2 separate regions of the Homo sapiens genome follow, and region 2 is linked to region 1. Evidence: fine-mapped expression QTL. Tissue or cell type: whole blood. Region 1 holds a variant in brackets; the other region holds the start of a gene. All regions are shown on one strand. Distances are between the middles of the regions.

What was found. PIP is the estimated chance that this variant, and not a neighbour inherited with it, causes the effect.
Region 2: FXN starts here. The variant in region 1 is fine-mapped to the expression of FXN in whole blood (TOPMed, PIP 0.92).

Annotation. Positions count from the first base shown.
Region 1 is chr9:69,128,885-69,131,570 of GRCh38, reverse strand. It overlaps a transcript of TJP2 not described here. Among named protein-coding and RNA genes, the nearest start is that of TJP2, 44 kb to the left of the region's middle. RefSeq lists an enhancer at 382-911. The variant T/C (reference allele first, on the strand shown) is at 1,414.
Region 2 is chr9:69,034,409-69,037,094 of GRCh38, reverse strand. It overlaps FXN (frataxin), which reads right to left and starts at 1,343. Exons shown (of 5, transcript NM_000144.5): 1 at 1,148-1,343. The coding sequence starts at 1,312. RefSeq lists silencers at 108-402, 985-1,454 and an enhancer at 775-824.

The DNA.
Region 1 (2,686 bases):
GGCAGGCTTTGGCCTCTTTCCGAAACCCAAGAGAAATATTTTACATCCTCAGACGCAATGAGGATTCCTTTAAAATGAAATATACAATCAAATTAGGGGATGTTTCTCTCGACTTTGTGACGTGAGTGGGAAGAGTAGAACACAGCTCACTCTCAGAGGACCCAACACCAGTGGGCCACTGCCCTTCTTGGATTTCTTTCCTGTAGCAAACCTCCTGACCTTCACAACGTGGACTGTCAAAAACACTTCCATATGTCAGCACCCACTCTCAGAATCGGCTTATATCAAGTTATGCTAAGATGACTGCATGCCTAAAGCTATTAAGCTGAGCAGGCAAATACACACAAGGACACAAACTCCAGTTTTAGAGATGACAGTCACTCCTCGCACAAAGAAATCTTGCTTCTGGTTTGCAAAACTCATCCTGGTTTTACGTTAATTATCAGTGACAGGCAGAAAGAGGGAGAGAACTTAGTCATGATCCCTGGGACTACGGCCAGAAAGACTAAAAGAATTCCCTTTCTTACAGGAAAGTCCACATGTGACTCTGTGGCCACAAGCAGCACATCCCACTGCCCGGGGATGCTGCCCTTCCTGAAAGAATGGTGGAAAGGCCAGGCCTGCACAGCTACAACACCTACCATCCGGGTGACCACTCAGTCCCTCCCCTGACACCAATACCCATACATGTCCTCACTCTCCTGAACCTTTACATAGGAGTTTGTGGGTCTTCACTCACCCAGGTCTCCTCATAACCCTCTGTCCATTTCTTCCTTATCTCTCAGCTCTGTTCTTCCTCGCAGCCACCCCTCCCCACAGTATTCCTCAATTCGTCCTCAGCACTTGTCTATGCGCCCTGCTTTGGCTGGTACCCACTTCCACAGCTCCACCAAGCCCCTGCACACACAGGATGCCCAGACCAGCCTCAAGCCCGGCCCCTTCCGTCATGCAAGTTCCAGACCTGCACTTCCAAAGGCCTCCAAAGCACTGGTTCTCAAAGCGGGATTCCCAGAGCAGCAGCAGCAGCATGACCTGGGTGGGCACTCGTTAGAGACACAGATTCTTGAGCCCCCGCCCCAGATCTACGCAATCAGAAACTCCAGGAGGGGGGCCTGCAATCTGTATTTTGACAAGCCTTCCAGATGGTTCAGATGCAAACTAATGTTTGAGAATCACTGCGCTACACACTTCCACTCACCTATCCCACTACTGTCTCAAAGAACCCTCAAATGGAAGTTTTCTTTTTCTAAATCCAGCTGACTTCCCTAGTTCTCTGCTATTACCAACATTTCCCCATAATACAAGATCCAAACAGTATAACCTGAGGTCAGGTTATAGCGAGCCTCCAAAACACAACAGATATTTAAGAAACTCAATACTGGCTTGTGACTGTAGAGAATGAAGAAAATTCTC[T/C]GTGGCTACAAAGGAAAAACACTGCCGTGCAGCTTGGGAAACAAGGAACAAAAATGCACTGACTCGTGAAAAATGTCTTATTAATCTACTCTTTTTTTACTTTCTTTTTCTTTTTTTTCTTTTTCTTTTTTTTTTTTTTTTTGAGGCAGAGTTTCGCTCTTGTCCCCCAGGCTGGAGTGCAATGGCGTGATCTTGGCTCACTGCAACCTCCGCCTCCCGGGTTCAGGCGATTTTCTTGCCTCAGCCTCCCAAGCAGCTGGGATTACAGGCACGCCACCACGCCCAGCTAATTTTTTTATTTTTAGTAGAGACAGGGTTTCACCATGTTGGCCAGGCTGGTCTCGAACTCCTGACCTCAGGTGATCCTCCTGCCTCAGCTTCCCAAAGTGCTGGGATTACAGGCGTGAGCCTGGCTTTGGTCTCGAACTCCTGACCTCAAGTGATCCGCACGCCTCGGCCTCCCAAAGTGCTAGGATTCCAGGCGTGAGACATCGCACCCAGCCTTAGTCTACTCTTCTTTTGGCAGTACTTGAGAATAAAATAAAGAGTACCCTAATAAAATATATAGACAATGTATTAATATGATTTTTAAACTATATTATTGTATATTTTAGTAAGTAGAATTGACGGGGTTTTTTTTTGTTTTTTGCGACAGGTTCTTGTTCTGTTGCCCAGGTGGAGTGCAGTGGTGCAATCACAGCTCACTGCAGCCTGGACCTCCCAGGCTAAAAGGATTCTCCCACCTCAGCCTCCTGAGTAGCTGGAAGGACAGCACACGCCACCATGCCTGGCTAATTTTTCATATTTTTAGTAGAGACTGGGTTTCACCATGTTGGCCAGGCTGGTCTCGAACTCTTGGATTCAAGTGATCTGCCCAAAGTGCTGGTATTACAGGCATGAACCACCTCATCTGGCCCTGACAGATGTTAATCAATAAATATTTTGGTGAAAGAGTTTAAAATGTCCACCATGTACACTAGTCCGTTTGTGTGTATGTATTATTAACATTTTAGTGTATGATTATTTTCATGGACATTAAATCAGCAGGTAGAATAGTAAGTCCCTGCTTACGTACTCCCCATCAACCCCAAGAAACTACGTATTCATTAATTCTTCATTCAAATCTTTAGGAACATCAGGTATTACACTAGGCCCAGAGGCCTAAGCCGCAATAAATTCCAAAAGAGCAAATGGCTCAATTTACATTTTCAGTATGCTTCTAATCTAAACCATTGAAACTGGAGAATTTATTCAAAACAGAATTTCCTCTTTC
Region 2 (2,686 bases), 94 kb after region 1:
CCCAAAGTTTCTTCAAACACAATGTGGGCCAAATAACACGTGTGGGAAGTTCAAGCCTAAAGTACAAACTCCGGAGAGCAACACAAATATGGCTTGGACGTGGCCTGCCTCTTTCATCTCCCCTAATACATGCGGCGTACCAGCCACTCTGAAGGGATCCCCTTCCGCCTTCCTGGCCTTTGCCCAGACGGTTCCCTCCTCGTGAAACACCCTCTACCACTTCCTTGGCATCTTCAAGACCCTCATTAAATACCATGTCCTCCCCTTGAGGAATCTTCCTCATCCCCACAGCCATTCTTTGGGTTTCCTCCTTTCAAGCCGTGGCGTAACTGGGTCAGATATTTCTTTGTACCCCCCAAAGGAAGAAAGGGGAACTAATTTGAAGTTCTGAAGACTTTATCTATGTTATTCCCATTTAATCCTCACACCAGGTCCGCAAAATGGGCGTCACCTTTATCTTCTCCCTACAGAAAACAAAGCCACGTCTCAGAGAGGTTAGGGGAATCCCCCAAGGTCACACAGCTCTGCGGAGTGGGGCAGAATCTGGAATAAAGGTCGGGTCAGTTTCCAAAAGCCAGGGCCCCTGCTGCTCTAGCTATTCTGCAGCTCTGAAAGTTTCACCTCGTTCCAGGAAAGCATTTCGTTCAAAAAAATCCAGCCTTGAAAATATTAGGTGTGCGCGCGCCCGTGCGCGCAAACACACACACACAACACACACGCTATATACAGATACACACAGACACACACATTATGTGTATGTATATACTAGCAGATACCATCTATTAATATTACTGAAACAAGTTATCGCAGAGAAGTGACAAGCATGGAGACAGCCGCACACCCCTCGGAACCGGTCCCCTCCACCAGCCTGCCCTGCCTTCGCCCGTGCCTTGACCCGCAGTCGCACCGCAGGACAAAATGTCCCCTTTTCCTTCGGAAAGCAGAAGCCAGTGTAAATGCAACCGGGAGAACCAGAGAAGGGAGTTGCAAGGCCGCTTCCGCCGGGCCGCCCTGAGAAGGAGCGGGGTGAGCTAGTCCAGCGCGCGTACCCGGAGCGACCCCGGCGTGCGCGGCGCCTCCCTGCGCAGGCGTGCGGCGTGCGGCCCGCGGCGTGCGGCCCGCGGCTGTTCCCGGCGCGGATACTTACTGCGCGGCGGGGCGTGCAGGTCGCATCGATGTCGGTGCGCAGGCCACGGCGGCCGCAGAGTGGGGCCAACTCTGCCGGCCGCGGGACCCGGGTGAGGGTCTGGGCCTGGGCTGGGCTGGGTGACGCCAGGAGGCCGGCTACTGCGCGGCGCCCGAGAGTCCACATGCTGCTCCGGGTCTGCCGCCCGCTCCGCCCTCCAGCGCTGGGTGCTGCGGCGACCCCTGGTGGCCACTGGCCGCAGGCACTCTTCTGTGGGGGAGCAGCTAGAGGTTAGACCTCAGGAAGAACTTCCCAGCTTAGCACTATTCGTGCATTTAACAAAAATGGAGAGCCTGCTTTGTGCAAAGCACGGAGTGCAACCAGGACCCCTGACCCAAGGGAGACTGCAGCCTGGTGGCCCGCCGCTTCTAAAATTCTAAACAGGAGGAACTTGGGAGCTGCTGTCTTGCTGGGAAGTGGGTGCATGCACAAATTGAGGCTGCTTGGCCGCCGGTATGGGTTTACAGCAGTTGGGTATGTGGGGCCAGGAGACGGATGCCTTGTGTAAATCTGTACTCTGCCCACTTCCTAGCTGTGTGACCAGAGGGCAAGTTAATTAACCTCTCTGTGCCTTGTTTATAAAATGCGTTTTATAAAAGTTCCTACTTCATAGGATTGTGGTAAGGATAAAATGAGTTAAGCCCTGTAAAGTTTTTTTTGGACAGGGCATGTTCCTGTTAAGTGCACAATAAATATTGTTAATAGATTTTATTGATTGATTGATTGATTGAGACGGAGTCTCGCTCTGTCGCCCAGGCTGGAGGGCAGTGGTGCGATCTCGGCTCACTGCAAGCTCTGCCTCCCGGTTTCACGCCATTCTCCTGCCTCAGCCTCCCGAGTAACTGGGACTACAGGCGCCCGCCACCATGCCTGGCTAATTTTTTGTATTTTTTTTTTTTTTTAGTAGAGACGGGTTTCACCGTGTTAGCCAGGATGGTCTCGATCTACTGACCTCGTGATCCACCCGCCTCATTTATTTGTTTGTTTGAGACAGAGTCTCACTCTGTTGCCCAGGCTGGAGTGCAGTGGTGTGGTCCTGGCTTACTGCAACTTCTCCCTCCCGGGCTCAAGCAGTCTTCCCATTTCAGCCTTCCAAGTAGCTGGGACTACAGGTGTGCACCACCACACCCAGCTAGTTTTTGTATTTTTTGTAGAAAGGGGGTTTCGCTATGTTGCCCAGGGTGGTCTTGAACTTCTAGGCTCAAACGATCTGCCCGCCTGGGCCTCACAAAGTGCTGAGACGACAGGCGTGAGCCACCGTGCCTTGCCTATTGTTGATAGATTTTAAAAGAGAATTTTATTTCTGTTACATATTACAAAGGGATGCAAATTGTGAAAGTTTTCTTCACATTTTATATATGCTTTAGAGGATGTCAAATGTGAGCCGAGTGTGGTAGTGCATGCCTGTGATCTCAGCTACTCAGGAGGCTGAGGCGGGAGGATCACTTGAGCCTGGGAGCTCAAGGCTGCAGTGAGCTATGATTGTGCCTGTGAATAGCC